Linked DNA regions of Homo sapiens: region 1 is linked to region 2. Evidence: fine-mapped expression QTL. A gene starts in region 2. The other region holds a variant in brackets. All regions are shown on one strand. Distances are from middle to middle. Region 1 overlaps ARNT2-DT (ARNT2 divergent transcript). Region 2 holds the start of ARNT2 (aryl hydrocarbon receptor nuclear translocator 2).

Evidence for each region.
Region 1: its variant is fine-mapped to the expression of ARNT2 in esophagus muscle (GTEx, PIP 0.95).

Annotation. Positions count from the first base shown.
Region 1 is chr15:80,368,474-80,383,947 of GRCh38, reverse strand. All of the region lies in intron 3 of ARNT2-DT (ARNT2 divergent transcript), which reads left to right. Among named protein-coding and RNA genes, the nearest start is that of ARNT2-DT, 28 kb to the left of the region's middle. The variant C/GC (reference allele first, on the strand shown) is at 7,567.
Region 2 is chr15:80,398,101-80,413,574 of GRCh38, reverse strand. ARNT2 (aryl hydrocarbon receptor nuclear translocator 2) reads right to left here and starts at 9,193. Exons shown (of 19, transcript NM_014862.4): 1 at 9,029-9,193. The coding sequence starts at 9,059. It overlaps ARNT2-DT (ARNT2 divergent transcript), which reads left to right and starts at 9,379. Exons shown (of 6, transcript NR_184070.1): 1 at 9,379-9,584; 2 at 9,990-10,073. RefSeq lists an enhancer at 9,262-9,762.

The DNA.
Region 1 (15,474 bases), 30 kb after region 2:
CTGCTTTAATGACACATGGCAGGACTGTTCCTTTAGGAAGTACTTAGACAAAAAGGAAAGGTTCAGCATGGTCTTGTGTGATATCTATTTTTATAATTGCTACAAACCATGGGGAAAACACTGGGCAAAACTGGAACTGTTCAATCTTTTAGGCCTCAGTTATACAGAGAACACGGAGCTGGAATTAGCTTTGGAAAACCTGAATTCAAGCCTGGCTCTGATATTTAAAGACTGTGTGTCCTTAGAAAAGTCACTTCACCTCCCTGAGCTTTTGTTTTCTTCTCTATATAATGGAGTAAGTCATAGCTGACTGGATTATTTATAAAAACTAAATGATATAGTTTAAATGAAAGCCTTCCTAGCTAGGGTCAGGTAGCTAGGGCATTGTAATTATATTTTGCCCAACTGTTTCTCCTCTAGAAATATGAGCTATTTATGAGTAGGGAACGTGACTTATTCACTCCTGTTTTTGCAAAGCACAGGATCCTTGAATAGTTGTGCTCCCTCAGGATAATTGTTCAATGAATGAATGAATCAATAAATAGATGGGTGTGTAGATGTTGCAAACTTCGCCGTGGTACATGGTGTTGAATAATACATAGGAATCACTAAGGTCCGGAACAAGTCTTTTTTTTTAATTTTTAATTTTTATAAGTACATATTAAGTGTATATATTTATGCGGTACATGAAATATTTTGATACAGGCATACAATGTGTAATAATCACATCAGGGTAAATGGAGTATCCTCACCTCAAGCATTTATTCTTACTTTGTGTTACAAATAATCCAATTATACTCGTTTAGTTATTTTTAAATTTACAATAAATCCTTGTTTTCACCCTGTGTGCTAGCAAATACTAGGTCTTATTCATTCTTTCTAACTATTTTGGACCCATTAACCATTCCCACTTTCTTCCAACCCCCTGCTCCACCCTTCCTAGCCTCCGGTAACCGTTGTTCTACTCTCTATCTCCATGAGTTCCATTGTTTTATTTATTTATTTATTTATTTATTTATTTATTTATTTATTTATTGAGACAGAGCCTCACTCTGTCACCCAGGCTGGAGTGCAGTGGCACAATCTCAGCTCACTGCAACCTCCGCCTCCTGGGTTCAAGCAATTCTCCTGCCTCAGCCTCTCGAGTACCTGGGATTACAGGCACCTGCCACTACGCCCAGCTAATTTTTTTGTATTTTTAGTAGAGATGGAGTTTCATCATGTTGGCCAGGTTGGTTTTGGACTCCTGACTTCAAGTGATCCACCCGCCTTGGCCTCCCAAAGTGCTAGGATTACAGGTATGAGCCACCACATCAGGCCCAATTGTTTTATTTTTAGCTCCCATAAATAAGTGAGAATATGTGAAATTTGTCTTTCTGTGACTGGCTTATTTCACTTGACATAATGATCTCAAGTTCCGTCCATGTTGTTGCAAATGACAGAATATCGTTCTTTTTTATGGCTGAGTAGTACTCCATTGTGTATATGTACCATATTTTCTTTATCCATTAATGTATTGATGGACACTTAGGTTGCTTACAAATCTTGGCTATTGTGAGTAGTGCTGCAATAAACATAAGAGTGCAGATATCTCTTCAGTATACTGATTTCCTTTCCTTTGGGCTTACACCCAGCAGTGGGATTGCTAGATCATATATATGGTAGCTATATCTTCAATTTTTGGAGGAAGCTTCAAACTGTTCTCCATAATGGTTGTATTAATTTACATTTCCACCAATAGTGGATGATGATTCCCTTTTCTCCACATCCTCACCAGCATTTGCTGTTGCCTGTCTTTTGAATAAAAGCCATCTTAACTGGGGTGAGACAATATCTCATTATAGTTTTGATTTGCATTTCTCTGGTGATCAATGGTGTTGAACACCTTTCCATATACATACCTACCGTTTGTATGTCTTCTTTTGAAAAATGCCTTTTTAGATCTTTTGCTCATTTTAAAATTGGATTATTACATTTTTTCCTGTAGAGTTTTTTGAACTCCCTATACATTCTGTTATTGATACCCAGGTGGGTAGTTTGCAAATATTTTCTTTCATTCTGTGGGTTGTCTCTTCACTTTATTGATTGTTTTCTTTGCTGTGCAGAAGCTTTTTAACTTGGTGTGATCCCATTTGTCCATTTTTGTTTTGGTTGCCTGTGCTTGTGGGGTATTATTCAAGAAATCTTTGCCCAGTCCAATGTCCTGGAGAGTTTTCACAATGTTTTCTTATAGTAGTTTCACAGTTTGAGATCTTAGATTTAAGTCTGTAAGCCATTTTGATTTGATTTTTGTATACAGTGAGAGGTAGGGGTTTGGTTTAGTTCCTCTGCACATGGATATCCAGTTTTCCCAGCACCATTTGTTGAAGAGACTGTCCTTTCCCCAATGTATGTTCTTGGCACTGTTGTTGGAAATGAGTTCACAGTAGATGTATGAATTTGTTCCTGGATTCTCTATTCTATTCCACTGGGTCTGTGTGTCTGTTTTTATCCAGCACAGGTCTTAATCAGCTCCTCCCCAACCTGGGATCATAAAGCCTGCCAATCCTTTGCATAATTCAAGACTTCATCCTGAACCATTTGCTGGGCCATCTTGCACCCACCTCCCACCATCTTTCCAATCCTCTTTACTGTGACACAGTGATACATTTTTAAATTTTTGTCTTAGTTCACAAATTGGACCCAACTATCATTACCACAACCTCGCCCGATGATTCTCGAAATCAGGCAAGCATCAGTATTGCTTGTGGGGCTTGTTAAAACACAGATTTCTTGGCCTTACTCCAAGAGTTCCTGATTCAGCAGGCCTGGAGAGGAGCCTGAGAATCTGCATTTCTCACAAGTTCCCAGGTGATGTTGCTGCTGGTGGTCTGGAGACCCCACTTTGAGAACTCTAGTCTAGGCTGTGATCACTACTCTTTTACAGGGAGTCCCCACCCAGGGGCTGTGGGTGGCATATCGCAGTTTCCTCTCTGATGCTCTTGGGCACAGCCCCTTCAGAGCACAAGGAGGAGAGAAGGGGTGGGGCTAGGCTGTCCAGTTCACCTCTCAAGTTGGATCTCTTAGATCGTTGGGATTTTAAGCCACTGGAGCCTAGGAGTTTGGCAGCCAGTGGTGTGCTGGTAAATTTTAACAACTGGCCATTGAGAGCTTCAAGAGGTGGGTGGGCACCCGGATTTGTAGCATTTATCAATTTCTGTAGTATGAATACGACATAGCCAATTTCCAGCAACCAACCTAATGTCAAGTGGCTCACAAAAATCCTGAAAATGTAACAATGGGCTCTCATGAGCCAGTACTAATATGAATAGATTCTAGCACACCACTGCTTGGCCACCAGCCTGCTAGATTTCTTACATTCTTCCTACTAGCCCTGTTCTCCTGGATAGCTCCTTCTCCCTTTCATTCTTTGTCCCTCTGTTACAGATTTCTTGAAATTGCCTGGCTCAGAAACTTCGCCATTCTGTTCTGCGCCATCACATCTGCCCCCTGTCCCACTGCCCTACAGAGAGTCCTTCCTTCAGGTTTTATTGCTTGGTCTGGCCTGGGCCAGACCTTCTTGGCCTCAGCTTGCTGGCTGCTTCTTTGTACAGTCGTTGCTCTGCTCTGATTCCTCCACAGTCTTGATGGCTTCCCTGCTTTTCCTCCCCTGATCAGCCCCCCTTCATGGGCACACATCCTTCCAACATGTGAGAGAAGTTGGCATGGTAAAAAATGAGTAAAATCAGAATGAACTCTTTCCATATTTTATTCAGGAATGGCATTTCACAGGTTCTCTCTCTTACTGATTCCAGATCCAAAGGGAGATATCGATCCATGGAAGATGGTTGCTCTCGGAAAATGCTGAGAAGTTTGCAAAAGGAATGGAAGCAGAGTTAACCAATGTATCAGGAAGCTTACACTTTCTCCTTTTAAACTGCTGTGCTGGTCTATTAAGACATGCCTAATACCCAAAGCTGAGGGGCAAAAGGGGAGAGAATGAAGTTTATGCGTCTGTGTCATAGAGAAAAGCTGCCAAAATGTGATTAAGCTTTTTGAGTTAGAACTTAACAAAATGCCTTTGCTACTGGTTTCCATGGTTGTCCAGTGAAAAGAGTGAATACATTTATAGGAAACACAAAAGGTGGTTTCAGAGCTTGGGCAGGATGGAAGACGTATTTCTTCTACTATTCGCTCCTGTGAGTTTAGTGCCACAGACCTGCTCAGGCATCTGGGAGATGCCGGTGGGAGATGCCAGGGCTGAGCAGGTTTGAATTTCTTCCTAAACAGGGAATAAAGACCTTGAGGAAGGAATATAGATATTGAGGAAGACCCAGCTCCTCACTAATGAGCTTACCTGCTTTTCTTGGGACAGCTTGCCTTAAAGTAGACAGTGCTGTCATGGGCTTCTGGATCTTAGAAAATGCTTCTCATTCTAGGGGATTTTGGCCATGGAGACCATCGCACAGCTCTTCTCCCTTCTCCTCTTGGCTGCCATCCCAGTAAACAGGTCCTTCCCAGAACCCACAGAGGAGAAAGGCGTTGGAGAGGTGGTAAAGATCGTTGGCGGGCTAGGTGGCAATGTTAAGTCCTGAAAAACGCTGTGCGTTGGGGAGTTTCTTAGAACACTTGTGTTACTACAAAGGAATACTTGAGGCTGGGTAATTTATAAAGAAAGAGGTTACTTTGGCTTGCAGTTCTGCAGCCTGTACAAGAAGCAAGGCACCTGCATTTGCTTCTGGTGATGGCTTCAGGCTGCTTCCACTCATGGTGGAAGAGGAAGGGGCACCAGTATGTGCAAATCACAACAAGGTGAGAGAGAAGGCAGGTGGGGAGATGCCAGGCTCCCTTTTAACAATCAGCTCTCATGGGCACTAGTAGAGTGAAAACTCACTTATTGCTATGAGGATGGCACTGAGCCATTCATGAGGGGGTCCACCCTCATGGCCCTAACACCTCCCTTCAGGCCTCACCTCCAACATATGAGTCCTATCTGTGCCCTTACTTTTTTGGAGTCAGCATCTAAAATAGTCACTGCTTTGCTCCAACTGGTGTCTCCAGTAACTTGATGGGGACAACCTTCATCTTCTTCCACCTGCTCCATTCATGAACCATGTCTCCTTGTCCTGAAAGGACCAAAGGGTTTCAATTTTCTTAAGCTGTGCCTCAGTTTCCTCATCTATAAAATGAGCATAATAGGAGTACGTACCTTAGTTTAAGAGGACTAAGTAGTTTATATGTGACCACATATTAACTGAACTCATTTCATATCTCCAACCACCTACACAACATCTTTATGTCTAACAGAATCTTAAGTTTATTGTGGCAGTATGGAAACCTTGATTCTCCACTTCCCAAACCTGCTCTTCCCTGATGGTTCCTCTTACTGGTTAGTGGCACTGTTGTTCACCCAGCTACTCTGGCCAAAACCTTTGCCTCCTCTCTTTTGCTCACACCCCACATCCAATCCCACAGGAGACTGGACCTCTTCTCGCCTCTCCTATCACAACCCTAGTCCAAGCCAGTAGCCGGTCACCTGGATTGTGCACTGGACATTTCCACTCTCCCTGCGCCCACCCTTAATCCCTTTACTGCTGCCAGAGGGACACTTTGAAATTACTAGCCAGCCCATGAGCCTCTACTTCCAATCTTCTAATGGTCTCCCACATTTACAGTAGAATCCACTGTCCTTACCAAGGCCAAAACATCCCACCTATCTGGCCCCTGGCTGCCTCTCCAGCCTCATCTCCCTCTTCTCTCACCATTGCTTTTTCTGCCTTAGCCACGCTGGCCTGACTGCCTCCAGCTCAGGGGACACCTTGCTGTCTCCACAACCTTGTGCTCCCTGAGCTGGATATCATTCTCCTGATATCTGCGTACTTCACCCATCTCACTTCTGGTACATCTCTCACCCCCTGGATACCTCACCTTAAAATAGTACCACTGGACCCCCTCTGCCATGTTACACTGCTTTAGTTTTCTCATACTTGCTTATTACTCCTGAAACAGCAATTTGTAAATTGTCTCTAGCACCAGACTGTAAGGGCGGTAAGGACAGGGGCTTTGAGTGTCTTGTTCTCTGCTCTGTCTTCAACTCCTAGATGTGTCTCTAACGTGCAGTAGGTCCTTAGTAAATATTTATAGAATGCATGAATGAACCAGTAAGTATAGTGCCTGGCACATGATTAAGTGTTGAAGAAGTGTTAGTAATTATTATGGGCATTACTCACACTGCCAAACTACTTCGTGAATTTTCCCAGGGGTAGGGAACTCCTCATCTTCATATTTTAAACAGAACATCACTTTATTGAGCTAGTACCATAATGGGAACTTTAACAACCATTACTTCATTTCATCCACACATCAGCCTTATGAATAAGTGTTACTGTTCCCACTTTGCACATGAGAAAAAGAAGGATCAAAATGTCAAATGACCACCAACTACTCCATTCAGGATCACTTATACGGTTTGGCTCTGTGTCCCCACCACAGTCTCATCTCAAATTGTAATCCCCAGGTGTCTTGGGAGGGACCTGATGGGAGATGATTGGATCATGGGGGCAGTTTTCCCCCATACTGTTCTCGTGATAGTGAGGGAGTTCTTGTGAGATCTAATGGTTTAAAAGTGGCAGTTTCTCCTGCGCTGTCCTTCTCCTGTCGCCTTGTGAATAAGGTGCCTTGCTTCACCTTCTGCCATGATTGTAAGTTTCCTGAGGCCCTCTAGCCATGCAGAACTGTGAGCCAATTACACCTCTTTTGTTTATAAATTACCCAGTCTCAGGTAGTATCTTTATAGCAGTATGAGAACGGACTAATATATTCACAAAGCTGGAGGAGGGAGTGCTGTGAGTTAAACCCATCAGTCCCAAATCCGTTTCTCTTTCAACCACTCCCAGCATTGGTTCCGGGAACCCCAGGCATGGAGCTCTCCTTCCTCAAGATGCCCATAGCACCTGCTTTTCGTATTTGATGAATCTTGCCTTGCACTGTCATCAGGGGTCTCTCCCTCCGCTCCATGAGTTCCTTGAGAGCCGAGACCAAATCTTACTCCCAGAGCACAGGGCTGGGAATACAGCAGGAGCTCAGAAACATCTTGACTTGGGCTAGTGTGAGGAGTGGGAGAAAAAAGGGGAGGATTGTGTGTGCATGTAAGAGTGGGTCCTTTGCCTCTTAAAAAAGTATCTACTGCAGCTTGTGCTGAATATGAGTGTTTGGAATCCTCAGTATGATCAGGGAGGGCACTCAGAGAGAAGAGCTGGAATGATCTATGTGAGGGTTCCCCATTCAGTGTCATCTGGAGCAAATAGTCTTCCCCAGAGTTTACAAGTATATGCAAGCCCAGGGGACACAAGAAGCCAAGGTAGCCAAAGTTCACCTACCTGCTATGACAGCCCCCTGGGATGAGTCTTCTCCTCATTTAATAAAATAAATTAGGAGGGCTGGATATGCCCTAAAATAATGGTTCCATAACTGCAAAGAAGCTGACTGTAACTCTGCCACCTGTTAGGAACAGGATGTCACTGTCACTGAAACAGAAGACTGAAAATTAGCCCATGCTATATATAAATTAGGAGGGTGGCGGGGGGG[C/GC]GGGGAACTGGGAACATCTTGTTTTGACATTCAGCAATATTTTCAAGGCTCTCTAAAGAAACTTGGAAGAAAAGAATGTAAAAGAGTCCAGGACCTAAAGGGAAATAAGGACCTGATTTTCAATCACATTTTGACCTGAAAATGAAATCAAGGCCTATATTGTGATGACTTGAGTAGCTTGCTGTCCTACAGCTGCACAATTGAAGTGGTTTCATTGCTGTGAGTACCTTCTGCCACTCACTAGATTCTGGAATTAATCCTCTGCCAGGCTAAAAGCAGAAACAGCTACGGATCTAACACTTCCTAGGAAGAAGTATTTAGCAGAAGCAGTGGTGTTCAATGTGGAGGCATTTTAACACAGGGTTCCGGAAGGTTCATTTGCATCCTGCACTGACCCAGCACAGGGTCTGTAGTGGTCACAGTGGTTGAATTCCCACCATCTATTCCTTACCAAATAATCAGACTAAGCCAGTGGTTCTTCATGAGAGGCTATTCCCCTCCCCTACTAAGGTGACATTGGCAATATCTAGCAACGTTTTTAGTTGTCATATCTGGGGAGGTGCTACTGGCATCTCATGGGTAGAAGCCAGGGATGATGTTTAACATCCTACAATGCACAGGAAAGCACTTCAACAAAGACTTACCTGCCCCAAAACGTTAAGAGTGCCGATGTTGAGAAAACTTGGTGGTCTATGGGGTTTGATTTGCCAATGCCTGCTTTAAGAATGAGTGTAAGACTTCATCCCAGCAAACAGTCTTGAAGCAAAGTCTGTTGGAAGCTATTTGAGAAAGGTTCTCTCATTCTTAAGAAGAACCAGAAGAAACTGTCTCTTTTCTTTTGGCTGTTGCAGTGTTTGAATATGACTTCTGGACCTGTTGTAGCCACTTTGAGTCCCTGAAGGGAATAATTTTGAGAGCAATCCAGCCATATCCAGTAAAGCCGTAGGTGTGCATAACTTGCGACCAGCAATTCAGCCCATAGACATATGCCCTGGAGAAGTCTTTACACAAGTGCACCAGAAGACAAGTACACAAGTGTTCCTGGCAACATTGTAATACTGAAAACTCACCAATATTTGTTTGTGAATAGGCAAATGGATAATTAAATTGTTACATAACTATTAAAAATAAATATTTAGGGCCGGGCGCGGTGGCTCACGCCTGTAATCCCAGCACTTTGGGCGGCCGAGGCAGGTGGATTGCGAGGTCAGGAGATGAGACCATCCTGGCTAACACGGTGAAACTCCGTCTCTACTAAAAATACAAAAAATTAGCCGGGCGTGGTGGCGGGCACCTGTAGTACCAGCTACTCAGGAGGCTGAGGCAGGAGAAAGGCATGAACCCAGGAGGTGGAGCGTGCAGTGAGCCGAGATTGGGCCACTGCACTCCAGCCTGGGCGACAGAGCGAGACTCCGTCTCAAAAATAAAAATTAAAATTAAAAATAAATAAATAAATAGCAGTGACAGTAAATAAATTATGCCTGTGGATGCATGTCACAAATATAAAGTTGAGTGAAAAGTACAAATTGAATTTTTCTCCCCCGGGCACGTCTTTGCTGCAAAGGCCCTGGTGGCCGAGACCAAGGCTGGCTGTTTACGTGAGGCCAGCCTTGCAGGTGGGGCAGAGAGGAGGAAATTTTGTTGTAAGAACTGGGACAAAGTTGGCTTCTGGAACTCCCAAAGAAAATATTTTTCTGGCAAGGGGAATGCAAGGCAAGGCTTCTCTGATGTGTAACTGATAGCCTCAGAAGGTGTAAGGTTAAATAATGATCTCATCAGTATAACAGGAGCTGGACAGTATTAATCAGTGGTCCAATTCAAAATAAAGCCACACTGCTATAAGCAAAGTAATGAAGGCTTATTGTGACCTGGGGCTCCTTAATGACACAGATTTGATTCCCACTTAATGGGCAACTGAATAATGCAGCTGATAGCACAGACCAGTGGGGAAGGCAGACCAGAGGGGTACAGGAGGCTGCCTGGGATGAGGCATCTAAAGGCTGTTATCACATGTCACATCATCAGACCTTGAATTTGCTATTAAACAGCAAATAAGCAAATATGCCACTTACAGAAGACCTTTCCAAACTTCAAGGCATCTACTAAAATTATATTTATCTCTCTTTGATATACCAATCACGCAACTCTAAACTATTTATGCAGAAACTAATCTACATATTAAATTGTGCCAATAAATGTTGTCTTCTCTGTTTACATAAAATGAATTGCAAGTCATTCCCATATGGTTCCTTAAATCTGTGGCCTAAATATATTTTTTTTAATTTCAGAGAAACTTTTATATCTTGTGATCTTTATTCTCAGATATGTAATTTTTTTTCTCACTGCTTATTTTCCTAATGTAAATTTCTCAGTTATTATAGTGGGGAATTTTTTTTAATTGGATAACCTTTGGGAGCATGATGAGGATAGAAAAATGATTGAGTATTGTACACATTATCATTAAATGGATAAACTTCTAAAATCAGGATTGTGCATGCTGAAAATAAGTTTAAAATATTGCAAATTTAAGTATCTTTTGTCAGAACATGAGAAAGTTGAGGGAAAAATAGTGGAAAGTTCCTAAAAGGGAAACAAAAAAAACAGCTTACACTATTAGTGATGACTATTTTCTTTCTGTTACGATATCTGAATCTTTAATACCAGTAGAAATTAGGTTCCAAACTAAAATTGTTCATTATAATTGCTCAGCATCAAGTAATTTTTATGTTGGATAAAGACACAACTCAATTGCTCTCTCTGATATCAATGTGGGGAACAATCCACTATGTTTCTCATTTGGTGTTAATATTGTGGCCTCAGATTTCCTCTCATAATTGCTTCAATAATTACAATCTATACATAAAAACTGAAACTCATTATTTATGAGCTTGTAGTTCTGTTGTATGTGTACAAGAGCTATTCAAAGAATAGTTGAAAAGGAAAACTATGAATAAAATATTATTCTCATGAATTTTTGCTGTGTAGCTTTCAAAGAATGTTCTATGCTTAAGCATGCATAGGGGAATTTTTGTTTTATTGGATTATTTTGGAAACTATATCAGTTTAATATTTTAATATCCCTGCCTATTTTTCTTTGAAAAGGAACCATTTCTGCTTGATAAAATTATTTGCATTTTTTAAATGTTTATCCTTTCAATTTAAGTATGTCAGATCCTTTCCTGCTTGCTTTAAATCATTCTGAAAATATTCTTATTTTATTTGCATGTTATTAAATATGGGTTCTGGTGGGATGTTTGTTTTTTAAAAAAGAAATTGCAGAAATATATAAAAAATTACACCATTTATATAAAGTTTAAAAATATTCAAAATATTATATATTATTTATATAATACATACATATATGATTTTAATATAAAGTACTGCATGGATAAATTAACACCCAGTACAGATAAATCCATGAACAGTGACATAAGTATAATTTTGAGATTTTCAATAGACTTATATTTCAGAATCAGACATATTTCCTAGATGAAAGTTATAAAGGATATGGATAAATAGAAGATGACCAACAGGTTTGTTTTAATTGACATATAAAGGAACCTTATATCCTTTAAATAAGGCAGATTAAGAAAGTGATATTGGGCCGGGCGCGGTGGCTCATGCCTGTAATCCCAGCATTTTGGGAGGACGAGGCAGGCGGATCACCTGAGGTTGGGAGTTCGAGACCACCCTGACCAACATGGAGAAACCCCCATCTCTGCTAAAAATACAAAATTAGCCGGGCGTGGTGGCAGTTGCCTGTAATCCCAGCTACTTGGGAGGCTGAGGCAGGAGAATGGCTTGAACCCGGGAGGCGGAGCTTGCAGTGGGCCGAGATCGCGCCATTGCACTCCAGCCTGGGCAACAACAGCGAAACTCCGTCTCAAAAAAAAAAAAAAAAGAAAGAAAAAGAAAGTGATATTATAGTCTCCAGACCTAAAATTACAAAAATTATTTCTAAGTACTTCTCAAACATTTATTAAGCATGTTTGATGTACAATTTCATGAACAAGAGAGGCCGCAAAATATACTTTGTTGGTGCATGTCACTGAGTAGTTTCTATAACACATGTGCTACCACATCCAGATTCCAAAATAGCCCCTTTTAGGAAACACATCTACTGCGTCCAGGACTTGCTTTCAAAAGAGAGCATGAAACATATCTCAATCAATGCTAATTTTCAGAACACAGAATTCAGTCAGTTTCTCCCAGAGTTGCAGTTCCCAGTGCAGCCTCTGCTCACTCCCAGGAATGCCAGGCCCTTTCTCTGCAACCCAGCTCAGCCTGGACTCACCCCTTCTGAGCCTCAGAAACATGCAGAGTCCTCTCTCAGTTGGACACCTCTTCCCCTCTTCCAGGCAGGTGACATTCACTACCAGTGTGAGAAATAGAAATGTGGTGCCAGGTAGATGAACTTACCAGCTCCTTAGCCTACTCCGACCTCCCCTTTGTCCCAAAGGGCTTCTGTCTGCCATTTCAGGGATTCATGCCCAGAGTCTCAGAAGATTCCTATAGCCTCGCATTTGATGATGCAGCTGTGGTACCCTTTCTCAACCATCCTTTAAAGTGAGCGTAGTAATCCCATCCCTGCTTTTGAAATCTGGGGCATCTCCATCACTTCCAAGAGTCCAACAAGCATCATCTCTCTCTTGCAACCTCTAGGAATATCTGGGTTCTCTTGTTGGTCTTAAGATCTTAGAACCACAAAGACAGACAATCCACTCGTGCATATTTCAATGTCAATAGCTGGAAACGAAAATAAATAAATACATAAATAAAATAAAATAAAATAAAAACAGATGCTATGTTTTAACCATTCCCATCGTAGATTGACCCAGAGGGTGTATATTCCTTAGAACATAAAATTATTTTGTAATCAGATGTATTTAGCAGACATTCCAAGCACTTTCATTGCCATGGAGGTCCCCAGGCCCAGAAAGTCCAGAGGAACCAGAGGTGCCCTCAGCTCAGCCTCTGCATGAGATAGTATACATTTGCTGATCTTTCCATACTGTTCTCCTTTCTATGATATGCTGAGCTCAGCCCTGGCACATCCTTTTGGCTCAACTCCCCTTCAGTTGCCCCTTTTGCCTTAGAGATAAAGAAGCCATCGCAATTTAAATTAGTAATAACTTTCACCACCATTCTTTCCCCTCATCCCCATCCCCCACAAGTGGAGAGCTCACTGTCCCAGGGACTAATAGAGCCTAGGCACCAGAGAGAAAAATAGTATCTGACTTGTATGATTTAGGCCACTATTTGCATTTTGACAACGTTTGCATTTTACCAATAATCCTTAAGACTATTTTTATTTCTTAAAGATTAAAGTCATGTGAACTAAAAAAATATTTAAGTGCTTATTTTTCATTAAGCCGATCAATTAGAGCTCTTTTTATAGGCATTACACACAACATATATATATAGCAATATAGACAGAAGATTCAGCACTTGTAAGGTTTTTCATTTGCCAGTTTCTTAATTAGATCACTGCCTTCAGGATGGAACCCTTGGAGGAACAGGGTCACGATAGCACCCATTTTTAGGGCCTAATAAGCAGACACAGCTGAAGGCAAAGACAGATCCCAAAATTAAAGATGCCATTTTTTACTGGATTCTGGATCCCCAAAAGGAGAGAGATACTATAGGAGTCCCAAAGGCAGGTCAGTGCTTCTACCATGCGTTTCATTGTAAGGCAACCCAAAGCCAAATCAGCCCATTCTGCAATTAGCCCATCCCCCATGGGAGTCTCATCTCTTAAATGGGGGGTGGGGATGTTTCCATATCTTCCAGGTGGCCAAGAGCATGTTTCTCTGATTCAAATGTGCAAAGAGTTAAGTATCCCTCCATAACTACTATTAGCCATCCCTTAAAGTATATTTCCTACCTAGTTACTACACGCCAAAGCTCTTTCATAATGTTAAGTATTTTGATACCTCCAAAACTCAAAACTGTCACATAATAAAATGCAAAACAGAACACAACCTTTTTGATTTTGAGAGGAAACTGTTTGCTTTTGATTCCTCGGGTTTCATGAGGAAAACAGAGGGTTTTTTTCCCAAAACGGGGTCTGTGGCACCTCCTCTGCTTTTCCCAAGGAATCACAGGCTACCAGAAGTTACCTTAGGGCCTCTCATGTGTGCTTTAAGAGTGACAAGACAGGCCGGGCATGGTGGCTCACGCCTGTAATTCCAGCACTTTGGGAGGCCAAGGTGGGTGGATCATGAGGTCAGGAGATCAAGACCATCCTGGCCAATATGGTGAAACCCCGTCTCTACTAAAAATACAAAATAATTAGCTGAGCATAGTGGCACATGCCTGCAATCCCAGCTACTCAGGAGGCTGAGGCAGGAGAATTGCTTGAACCTGGGAGGCAGAGGTTTCAGTAAGCCCAGATCACGCCACTGCACTCCAGCCTGGGTGACAGAGCTAGACTCTGTCTCAAAAAAAAAAAAAAATGGAGAAAAAATAATTCAGTGGACTGAAAAGAAAAAAATCCTTTTTTCAGAAAAACAAAATCCAAGTAGAGAAAAAAACATAAAGACCTTTTCAGTATACCTATGATTTGGATATCCACTTTTAATTAAGCTGAGTGGTCTTTAAGAAAATTCTTTTACTTCCCTTTTTACTGGATTTTAGCCATGCCAAGCAGTTAAGATTTTTGGCTTTTGAACTTTACAGAAAGTAATCTCACAGGTGAAACCAACAAGTCTTAACTAAGTTATGACTTAGCCACGAGTGTACAAGGTATTTTTAAAAGGGTGATAAGCAGCTTTTAAAACTGTCATTGCAAAATTGTGACTGAGAAAGTGAAAGAGATCCAACCCAAACAACTCCATTTTGTTTCCAGCCCCCAAGCGGTCCTTGCCCATCCCTGGGTGTAGGGCAAACCAACTCTGGGAAGAGCCTGGTTACAGTTTGTAGCCTAAAACAAAGATGATAACAGCCCTTTTCTAAAATTTACTTCCAACTTGCCAGGAGACAAGACCAAGAAACTAACCACAAGATTAGATACCATGGCTTAGGAATCACAAAGCTGGAGGCTACAAGATTTTGACCTTTCCTAAAGTGCTCTCAAGATCAGTGCTTAAGATATTTTGTAAATCCTGCCCTTCATGGATCAACCGGCACCACCCAGATCAATAAACTGGCTTATCTGATTTTGTGGCCCCCACCCAAGAACTGACTTAGTAAAAGAAGACAGCCACCACCGTAAAATGGCAGAGACTGGAACAAAGTATTGCCATGCAGTTACAAGTCATGTTCCCAAGAACATGAGAGAAGATGGAGGCCTGCAGCCAAGTTTGTTACTGACCATTTTGTTGGGATGGCTTGAACAGTAGGTTTATAGGGTCCTGGGTCTGCATGTTTACCTAAGGTACCCTTTGTCTTGACAGAACCATACAGAAAGACACAAAAAGCACATCAGATTGGCTACAGCTTAAAACAAACCTCACAAATCCCTTTTCATTAATTAAAACTTTACAGATAATATGAACAACAATCCTTATTATTCCTTTTACCAGTTTGCAAAGGGAGAGGGAAGCCAAAAGCCCAACTGGTAAGAAATTTTTACACTTTTGCCAGCGTGTCAGCCTTCTGGGTTCCCTTCCCCCTAGCTTAACTCTAAGCCAAGCATTTTAAGGTTTGGAAAATTAACTGTTCCCAGGTTGGAAGAAAATTATAAAAGAAGATACAGGAGCCATTTCAAACCATGAAAGAAGGAAAAACACCATGGAAAAGTCTGGGGGTTCCAGTTAGGGTTGTCAAGAGGTAATGCCTCTCTTCCTATTGGAAATGGAGCTTCCCCTGTTTCTTTGCCTTTCTTATTTTCTCTTTTCCTTTTTGGCCTATGATAGGAGACATATTGCTCATCTCTGAAATTCTCTGCTGCCTGCAGAGCTGCCTGTT
Region 2 (15,474 bases):
AAGTAGGGATGGCCAAATCAGAAACAAACACATTTATCCTCAGTTACTAACAACTCCTGAATGTGCATTTGAAACAGGAATAACCACCATGGCCTGCCTAATGGTATCACAGGCAGGCAGGCAGGACCAGAAATCACCTGGCCGCATGCTCTCTAAGCCCTGGGACCACCCTGTCAGCCAGGTGGTCTGGTTGGAAGTGTGTAGGTCAATCCTAGGAGGATGTGTGGACAATAGACGGTGAGCAAAGGTTTCTGGGTAAGTTAGTGGCACCAGCGTTTGAGAAAGGCCATATGGAAGAGGTGAATTGGTAAGGGAGGGGGTGGAGGGAGAACAATGGGGCCTCAGATGAGAACCCAGGTTGGCATGGAGAGCCCAGTCATGGGGCCCCTGCAGCGGCCCACTGAGGCCATCAGAGGCTCTCTGCCTGTTGAGTAAGGCAACTTCCTGCCTGTTTTGACCTGGACCAATTACCCTAACAGCAGTTAATTAAAAAGCCACTGAAATTATTAAATCACTGAAAGGAGGCCAGGAAAGGTACACAGTTGCCCTTTATAGACATCAGTAGATGATCTGAGTTCCAGACTTACAGGCAACAGGGCCTGGCCTGGGTTGCCGGAACCTGCCAAGGATAGGGGGCACAGCGTCTGGGTGTAAGACCTACTCATCCACCTACCTGCTGGGGACTCCAGATAAATCTCTGAGCCTCTCTCTGAGCCTCTGTTCTAACCTTTGTGGACAGCAGTATAAAAGTATATAAATCCATTTGACTGTTCAATTCTACTTCAAAGAATTGACAATAAGGAAAAAATCATGTATTCATATATTCATTCATATACGGGGATGTTCAATACAATGGTGTGTACAATTCTGGCAAACAGAAAAGCACACCAAATATTATATGCCCAGATATAAGAATGTGAGTTAATGAATTATGACACAGCCATAAACAGAATATATGCAGCTTCTCAAATCAGTATCCTTGATAGGATATACCATTAATGAAGGGAAAAAAGGGATGACAAAGCAATATGCTCGAAATAATTCTATTTTGTTATATATATATATATACACACACACACAATATTTAGAAAAAAGTCTGTAAGGATATACGCAAAAATGTTAGTTATGGGTGGCAGAATTATCTTAGTGTTTTTGTGCATTTTCCAAATTTTTTACAATCAACACAGATCTTTATTGTGGGGGAAAAGTGGTTGTGGTGAAGAAAGCAACCAACTCCTCAGCAGGGGCTAGGAGAAGAGCTCCAACCTCTGCTTTGTATGTTCTCACAATGAAACCAAAACAGTAAGAGATGTCCCATGTTTTCATACAATGTACAAAAGCAGGAAGTACCTATTTGTAAACATTTTGGCATTTTTGTAGATTTCCCTGAAAAAAATGGTCAAATTGTTATAGACTTGGCAGCCACAGAGTCTCTGCTTATCTGCAAAGAGCCTCAGCTTCCAACTCTAAAGCCTGCACTATTCAATCAGAGGGCAATGAATGCATCTTTTGACCTTGTTGCTGCCTTCCTGAATGCTGTTGGGGTGGCTGAATCTCAAAGCCAGCCTGGAGTCTGTCTTATCAGTAACTGCTGGTAATTAAGCAAGCCATGTCAATAGTTTCACACACAACACAGAAGGCAGTAAATGGGAGGATCCCACTTCCCTTCTGAGAAGACCCTGTGGGACTGTAACACGGAACCTACCACTACCACCAGCCAGTCTCCAAGCTATCACCTACCCTTCTTCTGGGAAGAATGATGAGCTTTGTGTGTCCAAGGTATCAGGTAGGTGTAGGACCTCCTCACCCACCCACCTGCTGAGGACTCGAGGTAAGTCTCTGAGCCTCTCTAAGCCTCTGGTGTAACCTTTGTGGACAGCAGTATAAAATAAAAATATATAAATACATTCGACTGTTCAATTCTGACCTAATCTTCTTCTGGGAAGAATGATGAGCTTTGTGTGTCCAAGGCTCCTTATTAGAAAGTCTAGAGGAACTAGTTTGCATAGGGATTATCTTGGTAGGATTTTCAGATCAAAATCAGTTTCCACAAATAAAAGTCAGAATCTCAATTAGACAGCTCTGGACTATTTTGTTACAGAGACCCACAAATATAGGATATATGCTTTCTTTCCTTCAAGGGAGTCATTGAAAGGCAGCCACATACAAAATAAAAGACAGTTCCCTGGCATCCCTCCATTTATTCATTAACAAAACCCTACTGGGTATCTATTGTATGGGAAGCAATATGGTAGGTGCCAGGGCTGCCATACTGTTGGATACATTCCCTGCCCTCACAGGGCTTCCAGTCAGGTATCAATCAAATAACTGCACAATTTACATGAGGCGAAGTGCTCCAGAAGCAAAGTACAGCTTTATGGGGCCCTGGAAGAATGCATGATAGGTACATTTTACCTGGATAAAGGGATCAGGATAGATTTCCCTAATGGAGTAAGAATTCAAGCTGAGACCAGAAGAAAAGTAGGAATTGGACAGGAAAATGGTTAGGAGTGAGGAGGGGGTAAGGGTAGGGAAGGAGGGACAGTGAGCAATTAATCATTCCAAGAAGAGGGACACAACATAAACAAGAGCCCTCAATTGGAAAGGAGCTTGGCTAAAACTGAGAAATAACTTTTCTTCATTGAACAAAGAGTTTCGTGTGGTGAGCTAGTCCAACAGCCTGACCTGCCCCACAAAAGGAGGGAAAGAGAAAGAGAGAGAGAGAGAGAGATGGTAGACAGATGATAGGTAGGTAGATAGATGATAGATAGATAGATAGATAGATAGATAGATAGATAGATAGATAGATAGATAGATAAAAATGAATGGATTGCTGGATCTGGAAAAGATGCAGAAATAATCTCCCTATGACCTTGTGTCTTAGTGAATCTCAATAAAGACAGACAATAAAGCAGTAAATGCAAGCATTGTTTGGGAACTATGGTACTTGGACCAAAAGCTCTATGTTCTGTGAACTAACTTACCCCAAGGAAAGCATTTAGAGAACCTGGTAAATGGCTGGCCAACATCCCTCTTTGTTTCCTTCTCCAGCCCAGATCTCTGGGAGCATGTGTCCCACTGCCTCCATGACAGTTCCACTTGCTTGTCGCACAAGCAGCTCAACTCAGCTGTCCAATACTGAAGCCTGGAGCACACCCCACAGGCCCCCTGCCTCTCACTAACTTCCTGTCACCTCCAACCACCCAGGTGTTGGACAGAAAGCTGGGAATCGTCCTTGACTCTTCCCCTAACTCCTTACAATGAAGTCATGATGATTCTGCCCCAAGCAGGACATGTCGTGCCCAAGGGATGGACAGGGAAGTAACTGGTGCCCCTGGAGTTGTTCAGCATGGCATCCCTGCCCCCAGTATAACTCAAATCCACCTCCCTCTCTCTCATTCTCTACTGACAGCCCCTGACCTAAGTTAGCACCATCTAACTGGAGTCTTACTTTTCCTCCCGCTTCAGTCCAATTGGCTCTCCACACAGCAGCCAGAAGCAGCATTTAAAAGTGCAGGTCAGATCATGCCCCTTGCTCAAACCCCCTTCAGTAGATTTCCAGCGCTTTTTAAAAATGAAGTCTCAGTCCCTAACCCAAAAGTGGTCCCCCGTGAGCTGGCCTCTACCGCAGCTCCAGCTTCTCACACCGCTTTCACCCTTGCTCCCTGTTCTCCAGCTCTTCCCAACTCAGGGCCTTTGAAGGGGCTCTTCCTTGTGCCTGGAATGCTCTTCCTCACATTTCTCATCATTCCTTGGAGCTTGACTCAAGGGTCAACTCCTCAGAGAGGCTTTCACTGACTTCAAATGGCCTTTGCTAATCCTCTAATTTAGGTCCCTTGGTTATTTTATCTCAGGGGATCATTTCTTCATAACATTTACACTTTTCATAACTAACCCAATTGTGTTACTCTTTTGTGACTATTTGTCTTGCTAGCAAGCAGCATGATGGTAGGAGTTATACCTAATTTGCTCACCACAGTGATCCCAGAACCAAGATCAGTCCCCGGCACATAGTAGTTACTCAGTAAGTATTAGCCCCTAGCAGCTTCATTCGTCATAATTGCCAAAACTTAGAAGCAACCCAGATGTCCTTCAGTAGGTGAATGAATAAATAAACTGTGGTACATCCAGACAATGGAATATTCTTCGGCACCAAAACAAATGAGCTATCAAGCCACTGAAAGATACAGAGAAAATGTAAATGCATATTATTAAGTGAAAAATGCCAGTTTGAAAAGGCTACGTAATGCATGAATCCAATTACATGACTTTCTGGAAAAGGCAAAACTATGGAGACAGTAAAAACATCAGTGGATGCCAAGAATTCGGAAGTGGGAGGAATGAATAGGTGGAGCATGGAGAATTTTTAGGGCAGTGAAAATACTCTGCATGATATTATAACGGTAGATATAAGTCATATACATTTGTCCAACCCATAGAACGTCTACCAACCATCAAGAGTGAATCCTAATGTGAACTATGGACTTTGGGTGATAATGATGTGTCATTGTAGGTTCATCAATTGTAACACATGTACTACTCTGCTGGGGAATGTTGATCATGGGGGAGGTTGTGCATGTGTGGGGGCAGGGGATATATGAGGAATCTCTGTGCCTTCCTTTCAATTTTGCTGTGAACCTAAAACTGCCCTAAAAAAGGAGCCTTTAAAAATTAACTTTTTAAAATTCATTAATTAATTAAAATAAATATATACTGAAGGAATAAATAAATCTCTTTTTTCAGGTATCACTTCTTCCTTTTTTTCTTTCTTTTGATGAAAGCCAAAATGCCATCAGCTCATTTTTTTCTTATAAGTCCATAAAAGAATGATGTGTCCTGCAACTGATGGGCTCGTAGATTCAATGAAGGACAGGATATAGAGAAATTGGGCTCAACTGTATGTCCAGCTGGTTTGGCTGTTCCAGCCCTACTCAAGGCAGGACAGCTTGCAAGCATAGCGCACACGTCTCAAAGGCTCAAAACCTACCCACATTCTTGGGTGTCCTGCTGAGTCCCCAAGAGCACTGAGGAAGCAACCACTTGACAGTATTCCATATTTTCACAAATCTTGTCTGCCTCACACGCCAGCCATCAGCGCAAAATGACCATTCCTAAATTCTCTATAAGTCAAAATCTCTGTCTTCAAAAGGCCCACGTTCAGAAGTTACCTCCCATAAGACTTCCTCTGGCTCCCCATGATGATATGAACATGCCTAGTCAACGTTCATTTCATTCCACCTGGTGTTATTAAGTTAGTCTACCTATGCCTCCCCTAGTAGACTTAGAACCCCCTGAGGTCAAGAAATATTCTCCCTCATCTCCACATTGCTCTATTCCCTGCAGACAGCTTGGCATATCAAAGATATCCAATCAGTTCAACAAGCTGATTCAAATGTCCCTCCATCTAAGGCAATTTGTCCAGAGAATCTTCCTGCACTATACAATTAATTCCAAATTGAAATGCCAAAGACCAGAAACCTGGAAGTGGGGAAAAAATCCAATAATTGATTTCAGAAAAAAAAGTGGAATTCCAAATCTCTTAAAACATAATTTTGAAATCCTTTAAAACATATGAGCCTTATTAATTACTCTGCAAATACTCATCTCAGAGAATGTCCACATAATGCTTAATTCCTAATGATTACTGGTCTGAATTTGTAGCTGATTCCCTCATGCTTAAATTACAAAAGATTAAGATGGAACAATGACATTGGGGAAACAATCTCCTTCTTAATTGTGCCATTTCAGCTGCAAATACCCTTTTATGTATATAACTAATTCAAATCTTCACTATTTCCTATACATCAGAAACACTTAAATGTCATTCAAAAAGGCAGCAAAACAACACACACACACACACACACAGACACACAAAACGGAAGATTCTATGACTTCACTCTCTAGTCTAAAGGATATATGTCATTCCTGGCCAGAGAGAAAAGAGAAAATCAGCCAATACAACAGTTTCAGTGACCAACGTAAGGACTGTAAATGACCCAGAAGGAGGAGGCACCAGGGGCCACAGGATATGAGGAATATAACCAGGACTGTCATAGCAGAAGTCATGAGGAGAATATCTGGGAGCCCAATCCTTTCTTCTCCTCTCCCAGAGTAGCTGGTAGAATCCTAACCTAAAACCCCAACAGGGGACCTTGAAGGAGCAGATTCCAAATTTGGACCTGTATTATATCCACAGAGTAACATGAGTAACATGAGCGTGAAGACCCCAACATCACCGGTCACCAACAAGACCCTAGAGAATCCCCACTACACATCACAGAAGAGTGTCATTGTAAATGGTTCTGCTGTTGTGAAGTGGTCAGCTGGGAAAAAAGGAACAAGTGGGGGCGTGGGGAGGTGACTGGCTGTGGCCTTTGTACCCTGGACACGAACTAGCAGCAGAAATAAATCCTGGTGCTTCCCCATCCATTTGGTTCTGTTTACCAAGCTCTTATTCTTTGCAAAGCAACCATATCTGGGGAAAGGAGGCAGGAAGAAAAAGGAATTCAAAGAAGTCTCACAAGCCCATGTGAGGTAGGCTCTGGGTGACAAGCTTGGGTACCATGGCTCTTTTTGTTGTAAATTGCCCATAGAATCTGAACTCTCTCTCTTTGGCTCAAACCCTGAGCCATGTCCCTTAAAATTAAACCCTTTCTCCCAAAGAAAAAGATGGAGATTCACATGGGGCAATAATAACACATCCCCACGGATCATCCTCAGGGGACCAGTAAAAGAAATGATGGTAAAAGGAAAGGTGATCACCTCAAGGAATTTTCCCTTGAGAAATTATCACCATGCTGAAGATCTCTGGTATAGCTGTCAACAGAGAAAAGCATCTGTCAAGCTGGCCAGGTGTTGACTAGCAACGCCAACAATACCCTATGCTTGTACCATTCAAGTCTCCCGCAGTCCAAGGCACAGGCACAGGCTTTCCTGTGCTTCACACCACGGGGCCAGGGGCAGTTACTCCATCTTTAGATCTTTAGTCCATGTAGCTCATGGAGCAATGTAATGGACAAAAAAGTTTTAAACAATGATGTCCTGGCATAGAAATTATGTAAATCACCAGGGATTTTATTCCTGTTCCCAGTGTATATTGGACTAAAATGTTTTCATTTAACATCTTTTGCTTTTTCTAATTTCATAACATTTACATCTATCAATTTTCCATTGATTTTGAAGTAGTTGAATGGGTTGAAATTGCAGCTTCAGTCACAGGCAAACTGGCACAGATTTGTTTTCAGACCAGCCACGTTCCTCCTCAGTGTTCTGGACAGAGGCCTCCTTGTCTGTTCTTCCAAGAGTCCCTATTTCTGCTGATGGAACTGCCTTCCTTGGAATTACACAGGCTCTTCACCTTGGTGTCTCCATGGACACCTCCCCTTTGTCTCTCCTTGGCCTCCTCCTTTACTCTTACTCCAAATCTAATCAGTGCCAAATCTGGAACTCTTCTACCCGCCCAGTGGTGCATTCCTTCCTCTCTGGTCCAGCCATGGCCACCAATTCTGGCCTCCCCAGCACCTGCCTCATTTCATGCTGGCCTCCCTGTCTCAAGTCTTGTTCCCTCCTTAGAATGTTTCCTAGACATAGCTGACAAATCAGTCTTCCAGAAAAAGTGATCATGCGATTTCCTTGTTCAATACCATTGAGGTCTCTCTCTCTCTCTCTCTGTCTCTCTCTCTCTTTTCTATTTTATTTTATTTTTCTGGTTCTTAGGAAGTGTGCAGAGGACTCTCCCTTAATGTGGAGAGAGAAAGTCCATACTCCTCAGTCTGTCCTTTAAAGCCTGGTCACATCCAAACAACTCAGTGTTAAATCCCACTGCTGCCTCTTATATCCCCAGTGCACCAACTACTCACTGACCTCTGCACTTGCTTAGAGCAAGTCCACTGTTACTTACGCCTGCAATGCCCCTCTGCTACTGGCTCTGTATATTCAAACATTCCCGTTTTCAAGGTTCAGCCGAAATGTCCAATCTCCAGAAGCCTTCCCTGGCCGCCTTAGATGAAAGGGATCTTTCATTCCTAATTCTATGATGAGAGACACTTTTCTTTGCTAGGCATTGCTGTTCCTCCCCCGACCCTCCCTATCTCCAACACATGACCTCCCTCTGCTGGGAATTTCCTGGGGGCCGCCCTCTGTGACTCTCCCTGCATCTTCCACAGGGACCCAGCAACCTGCCGTGCCCACAGCAGCCTCTGCACAACACCCAAAAGTTTGTACTAGCTTAGATGTTCACGTTTCTCTTCTCCCACACCCTGCTCATCAGGTAGGGAACTTTCCCAGTGAAAACGGAACTTCCCTACTACAATACCAAAACAAGTCAATGTTGCCACTTGATCAAGAACTCTTCCATTTTTGAAATATTTCCTAATGAGCTCAGTTGTCACAGACTGCACCCTGGGGACAGGTCAGACCAGAAAGCAGAGGATGTCACCTGGGCAGGACCAGGGCTGCTCCACGCTGGTGACCACAGGCTGGGTGTTTTGTGCCCCCGGAGGGTTAGGACACACAGCAGCCAGTCGCAAAGGGCGCAAAGGACCAGCGCTTAGTGGGCGGGGCGGGCAGGGGAGAGTCCCGGGAGTTGTACCCTGTTGAATCCCAGCTCCAAACTTTTCCCTCCGTCAGCGCGGAGCCCTCCACCAGCCAGGACTGGCTGACGCCGTGATGCCACAAAAGCCGGGACCGGAAGAGAAAAATGCGTGGGATGGGGAAGGCAAAGGCGGTTATTTTCAGAACTTCGGGGGCTCCCGGGCCTGCCCTTCGGGTTCCCGAGGATGCGAGGCCAGCGTCCGGCCGCCCGCGGGTCCGGACCGGCGCCTGCCCGGGACCGGATGGGCAGCGATTGGGATGCAGATGCCGCTCTGGTGCTGATGCTGCGGCTGCCGCGTAGTGACAGCCGCTCCACCACCCACCGCGCCGAGCTGCGGCTCCGCGCCCCCGGGGGCGCCCGGCGCGCCTGGTCCGCTCCGGCCCCGGGCAAGGCCTGCGGGCTGCGGCGGGCGGCGGGGCCCAGGCCGCTACTCACCCGGAGGGTTGACCGCCGCCGGGGTTGCCATCTTGCTCGGAGAGGATAGGCGCCCGCTTGGCAGGGGCGCGGGAGGGGCGGCGCGGAGCCCGGCGCTCAGCCCCGGGGACCCGGTCAGGCCCAGGCGCCGCCGCCGCCACACAAAGGACGGCGCGGGCGGGCGGCGCTCCCTCCGCTCTCCCCGCCGCCGCGGCCGCTCGCCGTCCCCGCCTTTCTCTCCTCCTCCTCCCCCTCCTCGGCCTCCTCCTCCCGGTTCAGCCTTTGTCGCGCGGCGGGGGGCGCCCGGCCCGCGGCTCCCCGGTCAGAGCGGTAGCACCGCGAGACTTGGGGCTGCGGACGGCGGGACCCCCAAGTTGGGCGCCGGCGACTGGCGGGGGCAGAGGGCCGGGCGCTCCCTCGGGCTCGCGCAGGTGCTCGGGCCTGGCCGGGCTGGGACCGCAGGCGCCTCTCCCGCGCTCGCCTAGCCCGGGCTGCCCCCGCACGCCCACGCCCCAGGTGTCCGGGCGCGCTTTACCCAGGGGCGCCGTGCCCAGGCCAGGAGGCCAGGGCGGAGCGGGTGAGGGAGAAGCCCATTTAGATTCAGAGGGAAGCCGGTCCTGGGAGACGGCCGCGAGGAACAAAGGCGCCCCAGTGCTGCCCACTTAGCATGCCAGAGCCGCGCTGCTCGGCTCCCAGGCCGGGGACACGGCCCGGTGTTAAGCGGAGGGTGCCCGACCGCGGGAATTCCTAAGGCCACGCGCACCTCCAAGGCCACCGCCGCACACAGCTTCGGAGTGCACAGTGCACACGCCCAGGCACAGGCAGCCGGCCCGAGAAATTGTGAATGTCTTGGCTTTGAGTAAGGCGCTCATCTCTACCCTCCTTCCATAATGACTGCCGTTGATTATTACTTGAGGGCGCTGCAAGGGCCTTATTTACACCACCAAGTTGAGAATTTAAAAAGATTTTTTTTTTTAAATAGGTTTATCTGCGTATCCTGGCGAAGTTTGGATGCAGAGAACTTGGAGCTGTTGTTTTCTACCAGACACTAGGATCCCTGAGAGAGGTAATGGCCCCTAGGAAGGACACGTCACCATCGGGGTCCCCTGTAAAGGTTAAATGGAAGAATAAAGACATCCCAGGTGAACGCTGAGAAGGGCAAGTTGGTCCCTAAACGCAGATAATGTTTGCAGAGACATCAAACTGTCTTAAATCCTTCCAAGGAAGCATTTTCTGGAGGGCAGAAAATTTGGGATGTATGTTCAAATAAGCATTTTCTTCGGGGAGTATTTGTCACTACTAATCTAATAGTCTATCAGTTCTACAAATGTTGAATGTCTGCTGTGTGCCAGGCACAAAGCCAGGTGTTGGGCCTACCATGGAAAGGAAGAAACAGGAGCTCTGTTCTTCTGGTTTGGGGGGTAGAGTGGGGAAGAGTGAAACAAAGTATCTGCACTCAAGAAGCACACAGCTCCCTTGGGGGCTTAGGGCAGAAGCCCTGAAATTGGCATCTCCAGCCTGTAGTCACTAATGAATGAATGAGGGCAGAGAGGAGGTGGAGTGATCAGGGAAAATGAAAATTAGGCTTTGAAGACATGAGTAGGACAGGTGGAAAAAGAAGACATTTCAAGTAAAAAATAAAGCAGGTGTGCACCCAGCCACAAGATAGGCCAGGCCCAGACAGAGAAACCAGGGTATCAGCTATGGCCCGCTCTTGTGCCCCGTATCAAAGTTGACTGTTCCTGATTCCAACATCAAGCCAAATGAGAATTCAGCCTCTCTTCTACATACCCCGAAAAGCAACACACTCAAAATACCAACTTAATTAATGTATAACGTATACTGGACTGAAGATTTCTTAAGGAAAGTAAAAGAGGAGGCTCTCTTCACTCACTCCACATCAAAAAAGGTAAAACTCCATCTCAGATATTTCTGCTACCCAGAGTCCCTTCTGGATCCTTCTCCCCACAGGCAGTTCAATCTCTGGTGGCCCATAAATAGCCCATAAATAGCACTTGGCATCACTGCCCCCTATCCCACGAGGCTCTTTTATTCTCCAACTTTCCACACCCCTTAGAAGGAAGCAAGTTCCTCTCCTTGGTGTTTATGTATCAGTTTAGCATTTCAGCCAGGACCCATGGCTCATTTTGTCTCCAAATACAGTTCTAATATCATCCCTAAAAAATAAAATATGAGTGAACATGACTCTTACGCACACACACATTTAACCATACAAATTTGTTGACAAGTTTTACTTTCTTACTCTGCTGTTGTGTTCTGCCCATTTTTCTAAATGTTACTCGGCTGATATCTTTAAAACTGGATCTTGCTCAAGCTTCCTACTTCTTGCACTGGTCCATTGCAATAAAAGACAGGCGACACGTGGACAACTGCTAGACACTTCCCAAGTCTGGAGTCGGCCGTGCTGTGGTTTTTGGTACGTAATAAATACGTTTAGATTTTCACAAAGGAGACATTTCATCTTCTCCCCCAGTCAGTGTATTTCAGAGGTAGAAAGGACCTTCGACATCATCCAATTCTGCCCCTGGAGTTTGCAGATAAGGAAACTGAGGCTCAGGGTAGCCAACGTCATGCAGCTTAATAGCCAGACAAGACTTAGAACTGGGCTACGCACAATACTGGGATTTGGTGGCTGGAGTTGGGGAGCGGTTAGGGTGTAGGGGAAGAAATAGAGAAATGGGCAACTCGCCTTCTCTCTCGTCTCTCAGTATTAAATAGGTTAAATGCTCAGAAACACTGATTGTGGATGAAAGCCCCCCACTTAAGTAAACAATCTGAAATGGAGTGGTTAGTCATTGTTGAATACTGAGTGGCATTTACACAACACAGTGGTCTTGCGCTAATTATGAGAGTCAGTAGACTGTGACCAGTTAACACAGGCTCAGGAATTCCACTCAACCTTTAAACAACCCAGAACTCTTTGAAATTCCAGAGGAGGCTGTTGAATTTGAAGCTGAGATTTGCATTTTTGAAAAGATTAATGCAGATCCACCGGGCCCATAGCACACGATTCTGAGCACAGCGCTCCTAGAAATGACCAGAGTTGACCAGCTGCTGTGCTAATGTGTACCAGGGTCCACAGCCTTTCTTTCTTTCTTCTTTTTTTTTTTTTTTAACTTGATGGGAGAAAGCAGCCACCTGAGTTCTGCTTCATATCCCTTTAAGTCCTAATACTCGAGACAAAGGATTTCCATTGTATAATATATAATGATCCAAGGCAATTTTATCTTTTTTTTTTTTTTGAGACGGAGTTTCACTCTTGTTGCCCAGGCTGGAGTGCAATGGTGCAATCCTGGCTCCCCACAACCTCTGCCTCCCAGGTTCAAGCAATTCTCCTTCCTCAGCCTCCTGAGTAGCTGGATTACAGACATGCACCACCATATCCAGCTAATTTTGTATTTTTAGTAGAGACGGGGTTTCTCCATGTTGGTCAGGCTGGTCTCAAACTCCTGACCTCAGGTGATCCATCTGCCTTGGCCTCCCAAAGTGCTGGGATTACAGGCGTGAGCCACTGCACCCGGTTTTTTGTTTATTTGTTTTTGTTTTTTGTTTTGTTTTTTTTTTTTTAGATGGAGTCTCGCTTTGTCACCAGGCTAGAGTGCAATGGAGTGATCTCAGCTCACTGCAACCTCCAACTCCCTGGTTCAACCAATTCTCCTGCCTCAGCCTCCCAAGTAGCTGGGATTACAGGTGCACCCCCCACCAAACACTCCCAGCTAATTTTTGTATTTTTAGTAGAGATGGGATTTCACCATGTTGGCCAGGATGGTCTTGATCTTCTGACCTCGTGATCCGCCCACCTCGGCCTCCCAAAATGCTGGGATTACAGGCGTGAGCCACCATGCCTGGCTAATTTTATGTTCTTTTAACTTCACTTTAAGATATGAAGAAACCAGGAATGAACGCATGGGCTTCTGCAGAAGGAGAGGCATGGTAGGGCTGCCATGGATATAACCACAGGCTTTCTCTCCATTTATATGTCTCCTCTCAACCCTTCCTTCCTCCTCCATTCTTTCTAACTTCTCTCTCTCTCTTTGCTGGAGATAAAGGCTCATGGGTCTGTGTTATCCCCACTGCTACCTCCTTATCTTTATTTCTACACAGGTGACAACTGCCCACGGATTGTCTGTCCAGGCACTACCCCCAGCCCCCACCCCTGCCTTCTTCTCTATCAAGTCTCTCCTTTACACCAAGAATCATGGACTTATAACAGATCAAATGTGGATGAGATGTTAGTTTTATACAAAAAGGCATAAGCACCAGCCTTTGAAGCGAAAGTGTGGTGTAGGTTTTTGCTCTGTCACTTCATGAAACTTCTCTAAGTCTCACTTTCCTCACCTGGAAAATGGGGATGATGTTACCTACTGTGCTGAGTTTTGGTGAAGATGACATTGAAGGAAGTAATGTGTGTGCTGTATACACTTTAGAGACTTTAAAATGTATTGTGATAGTATTGCAGAGGGAAGAAGAAAAGTATGGCAAGTCTCTGTCCCACAGAGATAGGAAGGGGAAGCTTGTCGTGCTTTACCTTCATGGAGAGTGGAGAGAAGGAAGGAAGGAGGGTGGGAGGGGAAACAGGCAGTCAGACCCAGGTGCTCTAGTTTCCGTGGAAGGTATATCAAGGCAGCTGATGGAATAGCCAAAAGCAGAGGGGTTTCTGGCCACCACCCATGTGGGAGTCTTGGGGAAGATAACACACAGGGTGGTTCTGCAGGGATCGAAGGATGTAGCTGCAAAGCTGGGCTTTATATGGCACTCCTGGCTCCTCGTGGCTCTGTGAAGTATGCTAGGTGTCCCACAGGTGAGGAGACATGAAGGCATTGAGGGTCTAAATTAACAGATATCTGGGTGAGGACTAAAAGGCTATAGTAGGCAAGATTGAATGAACAAGGCCCCAAACCAAGGCCACAGATATCAGCTCTCAGTGTGAGTCTTCCTAAAGATACCTTAATTTTCACCAGCCAAATGACCATCCCAGCCCCTCAGAATGGAGGCGGGCAAGGCTCTAAGGCTCCCTTTTCTCCCACCACTCCCTCCTTGACCACCTAGACACCACCTTGAAGGGGAGCTGGAAGTGAAAGGGAAAGGACCTAAGAATGACTGTGCATTCACCTGGGTGATGCTGAGCTTTCTAAGAGATGGTGTAAAACAAAGAAATACTATGAGCTCTCAAGGTTAAAATTCATTTAGTTCAAATGAGTATGGTATGAGTAAATTTCTCACCCTGCTACAGGGATAAAAAGAGACAATCTAAAGTGAAAAATATAACAGATGGAAACATATCCATGGTGAGAATGTACCATCCATGAACTCTTAGGAATCAAGACCGAGTAACATAGTACTAAACTGTACACAACAAAAACTACCAGGAATTTAAGGAGAAGCTGACAAAAATCACCTTACCAGTAGAGACTTTAACCAAGATTTTCTAGTTATTGGCAGATGAGATCAACAACAATGAAGGACAAATGTAAAATATGTTGATTTGAGGTTGATTTACTCTTGGCCTGTTGGATAACTCTGCCCCACTTACCATCTCCCTACTCCTCCCCGAGCATGGACCCAAAGCACCCGGCCCCAGGAGGAAGGCATGGGGCAATGACTGAGTGGGTTTGGAAACAATGATGGGACCACGATGTTACAGGCATAATCTTGCGTTCTGGCTGTGTCTTGTCTCTTGGGAGTTGTTCTCTTGCAAACAGAACCCTGTGTCCTGAGGCCTGAGCTTCTTTGTGTGTTGAAGAACAGCACATGCTTGTGCTGGTGCTTTTGCTGTGTTCTCTGGCTGTCTCAGGGGCTAGCAGCATGTGGGCTGGCCTTTTCTACCGCACAGGGCTGTGACAGCATTGCACTTTAGATTCTAAACTGCTCTCGGAGCATGGACTTGGAAGCCGGACAGTCCCCTGTTCGAATCTCAGCAACTCTACTTACCTGCTCAGTGTGAGTTGGACGCCCTGTGCCTCCATTTCCTCATCCACGATCTAGCGATATTAATAGTACGATCTTACAGGGTTCTTGTGAGAATTCAATGAGTTAATGTTTGTAGAAAGCTTAGAACATTATCTGGTATGTGGTTGGTATAGAATATTTGTTGATATTATTATCAAAGGGGTGAGGTAAGTTCAGCCTCCCATCCCTGAAATGAGATGGGACAAATTTAATTAAAATGAAAAAGCAACTGACAATTTGGAAAATAGTATAATGATGACTGTCTGTATCAAAAGCTAGCTGCAGAGAAAAATTCACAGCTGCAAATACTTGTTTATTAAATAGAAATGAATGGAAATATGTGAAATTAGCATTTAGCTCAGAAATCTCAGGGTCAATAAGTGTTTTGTACCTGAAAACACCCCAACTCACATTAGCTTATGTAGCCATATTATTGGTAAGGTGCTAAGGATGCCCAGGTATCCCAAAGGAAGGGTTAACAACCAAAACTCAGAAGG